Linked DNA regions of Homo sapiens: region 1 is linked to region 2. A link means that fine-mapping ties the variant in region 2 to the expression of a gene that starts in the linked region. Tissue or cell type: whole blood. Region 2 holds a variant in brackets; the other region holds the start of a gene. All regions are shown on one strand. Distances are from middle to middle.

Region 1 (8,107 bases), 85 kb after region 2:
TTCTTTTTTCTTTTTTTTGAGACAGAGTCTTGCTCTGTCGCCAGGTTGGAGTGCAGTGGCCTGATCTCAGCTCACCGCAACCTCCACCTCCCAGGTTCAAGCGATTTCCTGCCTCAGCCTCCCGAGTAGCTGGGACTACAGGCGTGTGTCACCATGCCCAGCTAATTTTTGTATTTTCAGTAGAGACAGGCTTTCACCCTGTTGGCCAGGATGGTCTCGATCTCTTGACCTTGGGATCTGCCCACCTCGGCCTCCCAAAGCACTGGGATTACAGGCGTGAGCCTTGCGCCCGGCCCAGATGATTCTTAAGTACAGCCAATGTGAGAACCAACAGGTTACTTGATTGCTAAGATTCTTCCAGCTGCAATGTCTTCTGTCCCCATCTGCATGTAAAGACAGTACTGCTAGGGTTCACTTATCCAGACAGTAACGATTCATGAAAAACCCTCAACTAAAGCCCCATGTTCAACTTTTCCCGAGAAAGTCACCTCCCTTTGGTTTGTCCAACAATATAGTATTTAAAATCTGTATAATGGTCTCAACCCTCATGGTCTTTCATGCTTTTAAGAAAGAGGAAGGATTAATGGGTAATAAAACTATTCAGGAATGGCTTAGTTAATTATTATTCTAGGTCTTGCTATAAATGGTATCCTAGGGTTCTGAAAAAAATAATTAATGTAATTTAGTCATCCAGCACTAAGCCCTCATTTGATCTGAGGACTGCTACATTCAGGCTGAAGGTAGAGAGATGAGTAGTCTTTTGCACTTCAGAAACTCCCAGTCCAAGGTGATAATAACAACAGCAATAATAATAACAGCTGCAGCCAAAATGGGAAAATACTTATTGAATATCAGGCATTGCTAACAGGTGCTTTTTATATGTTATTATTTTAGATCCTCACAACAACCCTGCTAGGTAAGCATCATTTCCTTCATTGTATTCCTGGGGAAACTAAGGCCCAGAGAGGTTAGGTAACTTGCCAAGGTCACACAGCTAAGAAGTAGATGATCTGCCATTCTGATCTACGTCTATAAGATTTAAAATCCCATGCTCTTTCCATCATATGATAAAACCTCTAGAAAGAGAGAAAGGATTGAGAAATAGAGATAAAGATGGCAGGGAGAGGGTTAACTTCCATGGGAGAGAATCCGGCCCAGGTGGAGGAATTGCTGTGAATTGCTCACATGAAAGGTGTTAAAAGAAAATCAGTCTTGTAATTCTGTATCTTAACTATGTTTGGGGCTCAATCCTGTTAGAAGGTACAGCACTGGAACATGTAAATTCATTATGAAGAGCTAGTTCTTCTTCAGTCAGTCCCAGCTCCCTCCAATTAGTCTTCAAAAATAAACCCATTGTATGTTTCGTGGCTTAGCAACATCATTTTTCAGCCAGTGTGAGCTCTTTGGTTCTTAGCAGATTTTCACTTTTACTGACTGCCATCAGTGATATAAAATGTACCAGGAGGAGAGGATGGTGGTGGGCACAGCTGTGACAACGCCTTTCTCTATGCTGTTCAGATCCAAACACGGTATGAGCCGGCACGTTCTGAAGGCGCGCACACACACACACACACACACACACACACACACACACACACACATACACATACACAAACACTATTCCAAATGAGCTAAGACCTGGAGAACACACTATACACATATATACATTAGCTAACTCAGGAATCTAAATATAAATTTATTTTTGGAGAAACCCCCTGGGCTAAAATAATTCACCCACAAAGCCAGATGTAGCTTGAGGGGTAATAAACATGCTATGGCCTAGAGCAGGAAAAGGGAAAAAAGAATGAAGCAGTACATTTTCTTAATGAGGCTTTTTCAAACCACCATTTCATGTTGTAGCCAAAACAGATAAAATCACCAAAGGAACTTAGGATCTTGAAGAATATTCAGAGACTGTAGAAAGTGGTTTAAATAATAGATATTTAAGAAAAGATTCTAAAAAATATTTATTATGTTTATAAAATGGAAATTTCATGTTTATACTAAAAAAAGATTTACTATTACACATAAGTATTACACGAAGATGTATATAAACACATTGCATATGCAAAATGTATACACATAGACCACATGGCCAAATATGTGATATTATAAGGATAAGTTGATCTCACAGCAACATTTTGATGTGGAAAATTACCTCCACTCCAGAAATTATAAGTAAGGAAGATATACCCTGGCATTGCAAATAATAGCATAGGGATATGTCATTACACAACCTTGGATGAGATAACATATCAACCCGACATAAATACAGGCAACATCTATTCCTGAAAGGAATAAAAAAATGCTTACGAAGATACAGCAATGAGATACTGGGCTAATCGAATGACAAAAAAAATGTGATGTGTTCTTACATTGCTTACCCTAATTTTTAAAAAAGATTTGGAAAAAACAGAATAAAGATGACACTATCTGAAATAGTTGGTGTGCTTGAAATCCAGTTTTTAAAATTTGAAGGTAGGAATACTTCAACAAGATCATAAGCTTATACAACAGATCATAAGCTTATTTTTCTGTTTCAGATGCTTATCAAACTAGAAGTGAACATTTTGAACAGGTTTGTTTTCTAGGTGAAATCCTCTTTCCACATCCTACATAGCAAATACTCATGCACACCCACGCACATGAACACACACACACACACACACACACTTCTCTTTCTCTCCTTACAACTGTAAATCCATACCATGAGACTAAGGATGCTAACAACCAAAGAATGTGTTAAAGCAGCATTTTACCTCTTTGCTGATCAAACACAGAAGGGGTGCTGAAATCCATGGTAGCCTGTCTCATCATTTACCATCAGAATGGCAAAAAGCATCCAGGTCTCTAGAGAGGAGAAAACACCATCTCAAACCTTACTGTCAACATGACAGTCAGAGGCAGCATCGTTTGCCAAGACCTCTGTTTCAGGATTAAATGTGCATCAGAGCTGCAGGTTGTTGTCAAGGCAAGGTGATGAAAATAGGTAAATGCTATTCCTGTAAATACCTGCTAGGAAAAGAGTTACTCTATGGCCTCATTCATCAGCTGTACATGGGCATAATACACCCTCCACCCCCAAATCAATAAACACAATTACTCAAACTCCAAAAAGATAGTAAAATTGTATGGGCCACCTGCCTTGGATCTGGGCTGGAAAAACACAGCAGATCACGGAGCTTCAGCAGCTGGAATGTCGCTTTACACCAACAGAAATCTGAATGGGTGAGTGAGGATTCACAGGGCCAGACAGAGCATGTGCAAAGCTGCCAATGCAGTTCGCATTCGGCTGTGCTTTTGGCGGAGTGAGAACTGCATTTGGGTCATGTGAGCAGAGAGTGCCATCTCAATGGAATAGGATGTAAATATTGTAGCAGGAGGCTGCTGGCCATGTGCTGTGTGGAGTAATTATCCATGTTGGCAGTCTTCTTCACTCCCCTTTCAGCTCCGTTCTCCAATTGACAGGGAGGATGGGGAAAGGCGTCATTTGAAAGGTGACATTTCAAGGCTCGAGTGTCTGTGGTGATAAAATTAAAACAGTCTGCTGTCACAAGGGTGTTTATTGTAGCATTACATGTAGTAAAACCTGAAAAATCACCCGAATGTACCTCATTCAGGGAGCAGCTAAGTAAATGGTAGTAAATTCGTACTCTAGATTTAAAAATCTGACATAAATAAATCTGTGTATTTATCTGGTGACATGTCACTAATCTATTGTTAAATGAAATAAACAAGTTATATATTTCATTTGTTCGTGTTTTAATAAAACCGGAAACCACTCACTGTATACATTATTTTTATATATTCAGACGAACACTGAAAAAGATGTAGAAAGATACGTACTAAACTGCTAATATTGGTTCCCTCAGGCCACTGTGATTAGAGTAGGAGATTTCTAACTTGTTCTGTATCAATCTCTGTATTTTTGGCTTGTTAATAACCAGTATCTATTATCTTGTATTTGTAATAAAAATATGATATACTAAATTCAAACAAAGTTCTATATTCTAGGCACAACCAGATTTTTGGATAAGTCAAATAGCCATATAGTAGATGCTTGTTGAATCTAATAATAAACACCAGCTTCCTTTGCCCTTGGATAGGATGATTCTGAGGCATGGTGTTTTACTCCGTTTGCCATTTCCCTTTCAGGATTAAACTCCTTCAGGGTTAAACTCCACTGCCACCTGTGAGAATAGGTCTAATAACGTTCTTTTTATGGGCTGCTGTTCCCTCCCTGTATTACTTTCCCACGTTCCTACTGATATTTCCTGCACTTCTCAATAAGTTACTTGCATTGGAATCATTGTCTCAGGGTCTGCTTTTACGGAAACCCAAATTAAAATATTTCTCCACAAGAGGGTACATTTCATAAGGGCAGGGTCTTTGTCTACTCTTTCTTTGTCTGCTTTGTCCACTCCATGTCCTTACAGCCTAGCACAGAGAGGGGCACAAAGGAGGTGCTCAGTACATTTCAGTGCATGAGTGAAACTTCACTGAAGAACTTTCCTTGCTCAAGCTGACAACCTGCTCACTGACATTGTAACATTGGAACCCAATTAACCATCCTTCATGGGGTAAGAACTTTCTGACAAGAACTTCTGTAGTCCTTGAAATTTTCTAGTCTAAACAAGAAACCATGTACTTGAGGATTGGTTCTAGGGTTTCTGGAATTGGCTCTCAAATCTGATTAAATTTAAGGATTCTAATAGCTTTATTTCTAGGAGTAAAGAGAGCATTGATAGTCCATGGTGTGAAGTGGTAATAGAGATATGCAAAAAGCTGCACTGAATATTCCTAATTAATCACTGGACACAACAGGCAAGGAGTTGGGTGACTGTGTAGATGATACCCTCAAACATTTTTGGAAACTTAATGAATATGGCTGGTTGCTCCTAATGTCACTGGACAAAGTGATGAAAGAAAAGGATTAGCTCACGGATTCTAATTCCCAGCTCAGGTGCCATATAGATGACCTGGAGGTGTGTATGTGTACCCTGAAGGAGAGTCTTACCTCCTGTAGCCATGAGGCTGAGGATGCTGCAATCAAATGCAGGCTCTCATGCTGCAGCTGCCTGAATTACAATGCAAATTGAACTCCTGAATTACAGCGCAAGTCAAACTCCCAGCTTCACAGGATGTCTGCTGTTAAAGTGAGGACATTGATTGGGAAAGTAGAGGATACTGTAAATTGGATAGAGACATGTGAGAAGACCCTGATGAAGCTGGGGGACACTGAGCATCTAAACTCTGAGGAGTCTTCTTTGCCAGTGGAAGTGGACTCCCAATCCCTAGTAGAAGCAGCCTCCCCATCTCCAGTGGTAGCAGCCTTTTCACCTCAGTCTGAGAAGATTGACTCTGAATTGCCTGAGGAAACTGTATTGGCCTTCCTTGAGGCAGCTGCCGTGCACAACAATGCTGATTCTCTTCAGGAGCCACCACCATTGTTCCTCTGCTTCTAGACCTATAACTAGACTCAAGTCCCAGCAGCCCCTAAAGGTGAGGTGCAAAGTGTGACCCATGAAGTACATTATATTCCAAAATAATTACTTGAACTTCCTAAAAATCCAGGAAACATGGGAATGGATACTAAGGGAGTGAAATAATGGTGAAAGGAACATAAAGTTAGATCAGGTTGAATTTATTGATATTAACTAATTAAGCAGAAATTCTGCATTTACTGTTGCAGCTCAGGCAGTTATAAAGTGTTCTAACAGTCAGGTTAGTGGGTTGAAACATGGACCAAAAAGTGGCCCAGGGTGAGCAAATTGGAAATACTGGACTTGCCTTGGTTTAATGTGGAAGAGATTCAAAGGCTTAGGGAGATTGGAATGTCAGAGTGGATTTGTCATTTAAGAACTACTCACCCACACTGGAGGGTCTAGAAGACATACTTTTAGCAGTACCGTGAGGAATAGGAATAAATCTGTGAGGGGAACCCCAGCATCTTTGAAGAGTTCTGTGATTGCTCTTCTCTGCAGACAGTGAGAACTGCAGTCATTGAATTGGGAAACCTAAATGCAGTGGGAATAATTGGATCCTAGGATGGTAGGGCTAAGTGGTGGTACTCAACTGCCAAAGACAAGGTGGGCATAGTTACTGTTGTGGAAAAAAAATAGAATCATGGCACCCCAAATTCACTATGCCACAGGGAAATTTAAGCTTGAGAACTGAGTCATGCAAAAAGCTGTCTTCTTTCGTTCCCAAACAGATAGCTGTATTTTCACATGCTGACTTTATCATATGTAGAGTTACTGGGCATGAGAGAAATGTGTAATTGCTTTTTCCCCTATTCCCTCTTTTTTTTTTTTTTTTTTTTTTTTTTTTGAGACGGAGTCTTGCTCTGTTGCCCAGGCTGGAGTGCAGTGGTGTGATCTCGGCTCACTGCAATCTCTGCTTCCCAGGTTCAAGCAATTCTCCTGCCTCAGCCTCCCGAGTAACTGGGATTACAGGCCCCCACCACCACACCCGGCTAATTTTTGTATTTTTAGTAGAGACAGGGTTTCACCGTATTGGCCAGGCTGGTCTCAAACTCCTGACCTCAGGTGATCTGCCCACCTCAGCCTCCCAAAGTGCTGGGATTATAGGCATGAGCCACCACGCCCGGCCAACTCTATTCCCTCTTTCCACATGTAATATGTAGACTCACTGAGTGCTAATCAGAGCCTCACAAAAAGGTGACCACTTGTTTCATTGCCTATCCTCTCTCCTTTATTTCCCTCCTCTTCTGCTTGCTCTGTCCTCTTTAAATACTGAAGTTCCTAAAACTCTCTTTGGAAAAAGCCCAGGTCACAGATCCCACTGTGACCTGTGTTTCTTTTTCCTGGTTGCATCCTCAACCTTGGCAAAATAAACCTGCAGTCAATTAAGATCTACCTCAGTCACTCTTTGGTTTATGCTGTAATGGACAGCAGAGGTCCAAGCAGCAATCAGAGTTGTCTGAGTCATAGAAACCTATGGCATTGGCTAGTTGATCATGGCGTTTCTCAAAGTAAAATAGATAGGAAGCCTATGAAATTCTTAATCTGCATAAGCAGAAAAGCTCTAGGTTAAGTGACAAAAGTCTAACACGAATCATAAAAACAGAGAATCATGATCCCTCAATTAATTCCCAGAATTGAGCCTGTTTACAAACCTAAAACCCCTTAAATGAAGGGGAGGCTGGAGCCCTTGAGGAAAGGCCCTGGTACCCTACTAAATGTTTATACTGTTAATCTTTCTCTCAGTTTTCCCCAAAAGAGATGTATGGCCTTTTTACTAGGGTAACTGTGCATTGAGAAAAGAGAAATAATCAGACCTCTCAGGGCTTACTGGACATTGGCTCTGAGCTGACACTAATTTCAGGAGACTCAAAATATCACTGTGGCCTGCCAGTCAGAGGAGGGACTTTTGAAGGTCATGCGGTCAATGGGATTTCAGCTCAGATCCATCTCACAGTGGGTCTAATGGGCCCCAATGCCATCCTGTGGTCATTTCCCCAGTTCTGGATGCACAATTAGAATAGACATACTTAGCAGCTCACAGAATCTCTACATTGGTTCCCTGAATCGTGGAGTAAGGGCTATTATGGTGGGAAAGGCCAAGTGGAAGCCACTAGAACTGTGTCTACCTAGGAAAATACTAAACCAAAAGCAATACGACATTTCTGGGGGAACTGTAGAGGTCATAAAGGACCTGAAGGATGCAGGGGTGGTGATTCCCACCACATCTCCATTCAACTCTCCAATATGCTTTCCAATTTGGCAGAAGACAGGTGGATCTTCGAGAATAACAGTGGATTATAGTAAGCTTAACCAGGTGGCAACTCCAATTGCAGCTGTTGTTCAGATATGGTTTTATTCCTTGAGCAAATTAAAACACTCTCTGGTACATAGTATGCAGTTACTGCTCTGGCAAATGCTTTTTCCTCTCAATACCTATTAGTAAAGACCACCAGAAACAGTTTATTTCAGGTGACAAGACAACATTCTTGATGAACATAAATCCAAAAATCCTCAACAAAATACTAGCAAACTGAATCTAGTAGCACATTAAAAAGTTAATCCACCATAATCAAGTGGGTTTTATCCCTAGCATGCAAGGTTGATTCAACATATGCCAATCA
Region 2 (8,110 bases):
ACATTAAGTGAGCTTATGCTGAGAAATGGTGGCCAAAAAGAGCCAGCGTTATCTGAACGTATATATGATGAAAAGATTGGCTCTTCTCCTTGCTCACTCATCTCAATTCCATGAAATGTATCTAGAATGAATTGAAATGAAGATGCCTGATAAAGGGGGCAAAGGGCATGGGCAGCTTTGAAGACTCTCTTTCTATAGTTATCTCTGCTGATAGCATAAAGCTAGGAGACAACACCTTGGCTTTCTCTGTTCCTTCCAGGGTGAGCTGCATGGAGAAGATGGGCCTCAGCCTAGACAGGAGCACATTAATAATAGCGCAGAGCTAATATTTATTGATCTAGAGACCTTTATGAGTTCTTTTATCTATTGTCTCACTTAATCCTCCAAACAAACTTCTGGAGTAAGTACTGTGGTGATGTCTCCTACGTGTTCACCAAGCTGTTTCCTCTTCCCCTAGGGCACACAGTCAAACTACATTCCCCAGCCTCCTTGCAGATAGGTGCAGCCACATGACTGAGTCCTTGCCATTGGAATGTGGACAGAGGAGATGGAAACCTTCCCCAGGCCTGGGCTAGAAAAAAAGCCCATGTGGTCCTCCACATCTTCTTTTTTTCCTCATATATCAACAGAATGCAGAGGAGGACAAGGCTCTGGAAGATGCTGGAATCATGTGATTGAAAAGCCTGGGTTTCTGATCAATGAGGGAGAATAGGACCACCCTGCCAAACAGCACTGGATTATGATATGAGCAAGAAATAGGCCTTTATTGTGTCAGGCTACTGAGATTTCAAGTCGTTTGCTAGAGCAGTTAGCCAGCTCTGATAGGTGCCATTGTACTTCTCATTTAATAGAAGAGGAAGCTGAGCTCTAGAGAAATTCCTGAGTTTGTGAGTAGCATGGAACTGAATCTAGGGTTTAAGGTTTGTGGGACACTAGAATTAGAAAATCCCTTCAACCAGTTCCATATTTTAAATTCCTATATTATGGTTTGCTTTCAAGTTTCAAGTATCATATGACAGTGAACCTCCAGAGATACTCTTGAGGATATTTCAAGAAATTGGTTCCATATGAAAAACAATGCTGGTATAAAAGCAATGGAACTTCTTATTCTTATTCCAATAGCTGAATATTTACTTGGAAATCAGAATACCTCAGTACATTCTAATTGGTCCTCTTCATTTTTAACTGGGCACACTGGGGTTAGAAATCTAACACAAGGGAATTATATTTTAAAATTAAATTATATTTTAAAAATAATGCATGGATAGCCCGTTTCCCAGTTCTTAGTCCCATTTGCTTCATTGCAAATGAAGTGATGAAATGAAGTCATTGGCTTCATCACGAAGTGCCAAAACTTTTCAAGTTACTGGAGCGTAAGTTGCATGAGAGCAGGGCCTTTGTTTGCCAGTCTGAATTCCTAGATCCTAGAATGGTGCCAGGCACATTATAGATGCTGAGTAAACACTTATTAACGGAACGAATGACTTACTATGCTCCACTGATTTTTTTTTTTTTTTGAGATGGAGTTTCGCTCTGTCGCCCAGGCTGGAGTGCAATGGCGCAATTTCGGCTCACTGCAACTGCCACCTCCCAGGTTCAAGGGATTCTCCTACCTCAGCCTCCCAAGTAGCTGAGATTACAGGTGCCCGCCACCACGCCTGCCTAATTTTTGTAGTTTTTAGTAGAGACAGGTTTCACCATGTTGGCCAGGCTGGTCTCGAGCTCCTGACCTTAGCAGCCCACCTCAGCCTCCCAAAATGCTGGGATTACAAGAGTGAACCACTGCACCCGGCCGAATTTCTTCGTAAAAATTTGGCTTTGCTTTTTAAAATCATACACAGAAGAAAGGCAGAACATGACCTCTCCTTTATAGACAATGAACTTGTCTGATATGATCATTGTTACCAACTCATTAGCTGAAACTTGTCAGGATTTTTGATGAGTGCTCCAAACAATCTTGTCCTTTGTACTACTGTACTATCTCACATCCAATTACTAACCAGGCCTAACCCTGCTTAACTTCTGAGGTCAGGTGCGTTCAGGGTGGTTCTGGCCATAGACCACTGCACTGTCAAACGTGAGGTAGATGGCAATGAGTATATGCAGAAGTATGATTTAGAGATGTGGGAATTCAGTGCGAAAATGTGGTTGTGAATTAAACAATGGTAATGCAGTGTTAATTATTGTCTCCTAAATACAGTTTCAGACTTTAAGAGTTATTCTCTTTAAACAACCGCAAGAAACCCCCCCACAAAACCCAACTCTTGCATAGTTTGGTGAAGGGGTGGGGTGGGAGGAGTGCTATCATTTTTCATACACCTACTTGGTGCCAAGAGCTTTGTATATTCTATCTCATAGAATCTTTACATGATCCTAAGGGGTTAGTAGTTTTAAGCCTATTTTACAGGCAAGGAAACTGAAATACAGATTAAGTAATTTGCCTAAGGCCATTGACTGAGTCCATGGTAGAGCTAGGGTTCAATACTTGTTTCTCTGACTCTGGAGAAAAAAATGTTCTTTCCACACATCATGGTGGTAGAATTTCATTTTGGGAATGAGCTCAGATGCTAAAAAATTCCTTTCTTTGTAATTGTAGCTGGATTCAAGGTTGTCTTACTTTCTAAAATGATGGTTCTTACTAGTGTAAGGATTGGTACCCTATATTTTTGTTTCATTTGGCATTGCCTCAAGGGTCCTCCTGAAAGTGCAGTTGGCAAACATTTATTTTTATAAGATATATACACATACATAATACATATTCTCCCACCCAGTTCACCGTCACCACAAAACTTGAGAACATCTTGAAAATAACTGGTGATCCTCTGAATGGCTCCAAATCAAGACCCAAATTACTTCATTACTTTTCTAAATACTTGTGCAATATAAATGGGCTGTGAACACTCAGTCAAGTAAAGGGAAATTTCCTGCCGCTTTTTTTTCTTTTTCTTTTTTTCATTTGGGCTGATGAGAAATAAGAATAAATCCTCTTAGAGTTAATAATGTGAAAACCAAAGCTTTCAAAAGCAGCTCAAAGGCAGCGGTTGGTATTGCACACTTTATTTAGGAACATTTTCCTACAACTGCTTCCTTCTCCTTTCTTCTTCTTCTTTCTTCAACTTCTGTTGGGCCCGCAGAAATTGTAGTTGTCTTATGTTAAAATTCTGGTGACCAGTTAAGGGGCAAACATCAGGCTTAGCAATTGGTATCTGTACTAAGCAGTGACAGAAATCACGATTAAGCTGTGATGCACATAAAGGCAGATGCTGTGGCATATTCA[G/C]CATGGTATGCTCCCTGCACTGAGCACACAGTAAGTGTTCAAGAAATGCTTACTGGAAGAATTAATTAGTGAATTGCAGCTTATCAAAGATCACTTGGACTCATAGGGAATATAAAATCAGAGTCTGTTGGATAAGACAGCCATCTGTGTCCAAGTTATGGAGACCTTTCCAACCAGTTACTTCCTGGAGTTTCACTGAGGGATAAACTGAGCCTTCGAAGCATCTAGGAGCTGACAATCTAGCAGTCACTATCAGGCATGTTGCAACAAACACCCAGATGGCCCTGGTGACGGGAGAATTCTACTCTTCTGAAAATCAAAAAGTATTGATTGGCTCAAAGAGTGAGGAGGAACACATATTCAGTTAAAAATATAAGCTCTCCAGAATGTTTTGAGGGGAAATGTTAAGTTTTGGTTGACTTGGGATCTGATTTTAGATTGCTGATAAGACAAAATGTATGTTCTAACTGTTGGGTGCATAGTAGGGTTGCTTTGGAACAGTGTCTTGTGTTGATGAGTAATTCTGCGCCTTGAACCTGTGCCACCACAATTTCAGTTAAAGGCTTACAAGTCCTATCAGCTTCTCAGAACATTTTTTTTTTTTCAAAACCACTTTTGTGTTTTCTGAACCAGAAATCTGCTTTAGTGCTTAGCAGGTTTCATGTTTCAGAACTGTACTTTTAGAGTGTCTCTAGACAACACTGAAAGGCACACAGAGAGAAATGTTGATGTGGCTGGGTGCTTGGTTTGTTCCCCGTCTTGGTTGGCGGTTCGGGGTGGGGTGGTGGAGGGGGAGGGTTAAGAATTATAGCAGGTGTCTGCTGGCTGAGAGGTCAGTAAACAATTCCAGATGCTTTGAAGGATCTAGAATTTCCAGCAGCTTGGCTCTGGTTGACATTTAAAAATTAACATACTTAATCCTCTAATCATATATGATCACCCCCAACAAAAGTGATAGAGGGTCTCCCTTAGATAAAAAATTGGAATTAATATGTACTTTAAAAGTAGATCTAGTTTTAAAAACTAGATGGTGTTACAAGTACAGTAATGAAAGCCATTTTCTTTCATTTTTATTTGAAAAACAATCTTATACATCAGAAAGCTTAGTAAATTAATTCATTGTCTTTGTTTTGGAATTTCCTAAACTGAGTAGATAGACGGTGAGCATCACGATAGCCAAAGACTGTAACTGAAGGCCAAGAATACTCTGAGGTTGGATTTTAGGGCACTAGGAAGGGCTGCTAATAACGACACTCTTTAAAAACTCTCACTTTCTCCCTGTAATAATTATAAGAATAATATGTCTGACATTTTTAAAAAAAGACTTTAGAATGGGAGTTTTCATAATTTAAATCAGACAAGAAAAACAATAAAACGAACTTAGGCCATAGAAGTCTAGGAGCCAATTCTAACAAGAACAAACTTATAAAACAAAGCCTTCAGAATAGAAGCCTAAGTTGATAGATTTAATTTTCAACAAAAAAAGAACATCTACATTCTTCTGCACTAAACTGTGAACTCCATCATAGCAGGGATGAAGCCCACATGAGACATGGCAGGTACTGAACAAATATTTGTTGAATAATTAAAATAAAACAATCTTCCTGTTCCAAGGAGATCACCTTGGGAGGCTATACAATTATTCTACTCATTGCTCAAAATACTTTTGGGAGGTTTTTTTTTGGAAATTGCCACTAGAGCAAGAGCTCTATCCATGGATAGAAATAAGGATGTGTGAGTTTCATCAGAGAAATAATTACATCTTTATTTTCACTAACTTCTTTTTTTTTTTTTTTTGAGACGGAGTCTCATTCTGTCACCCAGGCTGGAGTGCAGTGGCACCATCTCGGCTTACTGCAACCTCCACCTCCTGGGTTCAAGAGATTCTCCTGCCTCAGCCTCTCTAGTAGCTGGGACTACAGGTGCGAGCCACCACGCCCGTTGAATTTTTGTATTTTTAGTAGAGATGGGCGTCACCATATTGGCCAGGCTGGTCTTGAACTCCTAGACCTCATGATCCGCCTGCCTTGGCCTCCCAAAGTGCTAGGATTACAGGCGTGAGCCACTGCGCCCGGCCTATTTTCACTAACTTCTAATTGAAATTTAACATCTTTTTCAATTATGAATATAGGCAACAACCCACAGTAGTATAAACAGTACCTGTGACTTTGCCACCTCTATAAATTATAGGTACAGTGCTATTACATTAGTGATTGCAGATCACTACATGTCTCACTACTTCAACAATTGTAGCAGTTTGTGCTCCTACCATCAAATCTTATTTAACGCATTAATAAACAACCTTATATGTTATTATCATAAATTTGGTCTTTAAAATGTTTTCTAGCCTTGGCAACATGGTGAAACTCTGCCTCTACAGAAAAAAAAAAAATTAGTTGGGTATGGTGGTATGCGCCTGTAGTCCCAGCTACTTGGGAGGCTGAGGTGGGAGAGTCACTTGAGCCTGGGAGGCAGAGGTTGCAGTGAACTGAGATTGCACCACTGCACTCTGGCCTCACAGAGTGAGACCCCGTCTCAATAAATAAATAAATAGGCTGGGCGTGGTGCCTCACACCTGTAATCCCAGCCCTTTAGGAGGCCAAGGTGGATGAATCATTTGAGGTCAGGAGTTCGAGACCAGCCTGGCCAACATGGTGAAATCCCGCCTCTACTAAAAAATACAAAAATTAGCCACGTGTGGCGGTGGGTGCCTGTAATCCCAGCTACTCGGTAGGCTGAGGCAGGAGAATCACTTGAACCCTGGAGGTGGAGGTTGCAGCTAGCTGAGATCGCACCACTGCACTCCAGCCTTGGCGACAAAGCGAGACTCCGTCTCAATAAATAAATAAATAAAAGAATGTTTTGATAGCTGTATTTTAATATTTTGATTTCTTTCGCAATCTTATATGTTTCATTTTCTGTAATTTCAGATATTTTTCCTTTTTGATATTTTTTTCCTTTTAAAAAGAAGTTTAAATAGAGATGAGGTTTAGCCATGTTGCCCAGGCTGATCCTGAACTCCTGAGCTCAAGCAATCCTCCTGCCTCGGCCTCCCAAAGGGCTGGGATTACAGGTGTGAGTCACTGCACCCAGCCTAATTTCAGGTATGTTTCTGAGAAGTTATCCATAGGTTTCACAAACACATGAAGATGTGTCCATGTCATAAATATGGGTAAGGACTCCTGCTCTAAAGTCTACAGGACATTTTTAAAAAATTCTAATTGGTATAAAATTTTATTTACTTATTTATATCTCATAAACACCTCTAATACCATGAAAATCTTAGTTTTTTGAGAGTAGGTTTTGGAAATAACAGTCACCTGGAGTCAAGTCTGGGAAATAAATTGGATAGCTGAGTCAACAAAACAAAAGAAGAAAGGGCCATAAAATAAAATAACATGACTTTTTCTTGAATTTAATTCTTTCTTTCTCCCTAGATATAACATATCTAGATATAATATATATCTAGGCTGGGCGTGGTGGCTCACGCCTATAATCCCAGCACTTTGGGAGGCCGAGGCAGGTGGATCACTTGAGGACAGGAGTTCGAGACCAGCCTGGCTAACCTGGTGAAACCCCATCTCCACAAAAAATACAAAAATTAACCGGGCATGGTGGCAGGCACCTGTAATCCCAGCTACTTAAGAGGCTGAGGCAGGAGAATCACTTGAACCCAAGAGGCGGAGGTTGCAGTGAGCCAAAATAGTGCCACTGCATTCTAGCCTGGGTGACACAGTGAGACCACATCTCGGAAAAAAAAAAATCTATATATATATATGTGTGTGTGTATATATATGTATATATACGTGTGTATATATACATATACATACACACGTATATGTGTGTATATACACATATATGTATATATGTATATATGTGTGTGTATATATATATAAAAAATTTTTGTGCCTCACTAAAGCTTTTGTGCAAGCTACTGAACTAGAAACTGGGGATACAAAGATAAAAAAAGGCATGGTCTGCCTCTAGAAGTTTATAGGGTTGGAGGAGAGTGGGAGAGGGAGGTGGGGGCTCCTAAGTAGTGGTGACCCTACTCCATTTTTTTTTTTTTAGATGTTCGGTCTTAGGCTAAAACTTCTGATTCATTAAAAACTTTTGTTTGTTATGTTACCTTTTGCTAACTGTAAAGTTAAAAATTTCAAGTCAGGGACTGTTTCTTCTGCTTTTGGTTCTATCTCAGGAATGTGGTAAGTAGAAGTGATGCTAAGAATTATGTCCAAAAGGTCACATCTGTTTTTGCAACTTAAATTTATTTTCTCAGAGTGGTTCTACAATTGAAGTTTTGTTTGTCAGACTGCTCACAAAAATCTGCTTACATAAGAATGTGCATTTAATATATCCTAAACAATATATATATCCTAAATGCTGTGCATAACAGTGCTTCTCTGGTTAAATGCATTCAAAGTTCTAACCCAGATGCCAACAGCTCAGAGCCTCTCTTGATAGAACACTCTTCCTGTCAAGGCTAAAATGAGAGCAGGAGAGGTTAGTTTCCATTTAACTCCCGGTAGCTGCAACAGACAAGCCTCACTCTATGTCAATGATTCTTCTGAGGTCCTGTTTTGAAGAACAAAAGCACAAAGGACAATCTGACCTATCTTGCTTTTTTCAGTGTTAACCGCAGTGTGGATAACTTCTAAATAAGTCAGTTTATAATTAAGCAGTGTGGTTAATGAAACAGGAAAAACAAACAGATCATTGGAACAGAACAAAGAGTTCAAAAATGAAACCATATATTAAAAAAAATCTGGTAACAAACAAAAACATAATTTAACATAACATAATCCAGTTCTTGGGGTAGAGAAGGCCTTCTTT

Evidence for each region. PIP is the estimated chance that this variant, and not a neighbour inherited with it, causes the effect.
Region 1: ANKRD55 starts here. The variant in region 2 is fine-mapped to the expression of ANKRD55 in whole blood (INTERVAL, PIP 0.98).

What each region holds. Positions count from the first base shown.
Region 1 is chr5:56,230,097-56,238,203 of GRCh38, forward strand. ANKRD55 (ankyrin repeat domain 55) reads right to left here and starts at 3,234. Exons shown (of 12, transcript NM_024669.3): 1 at 3,145-3,234; 2 at 2,760-2,850. The coding sequence starts at 2,817.
Region 2 is chr5:56,144,786-56,152,895 of GRCh38, forward strand. All of the region lies in intron 6 of ANKRD55 (ankyrin repeat domain 55), which reads right to left. It also overlaps the pseudogene RNA5SP184. Among named protein-coding and RNA genes, the nearest start is that of ANKRD55, 84 kb to the right of the region's middle. RefSeq lists a cis regulatory region at 3,685-4,185. The variant G/C (reference allele first, on the strand shown) is at 3,278.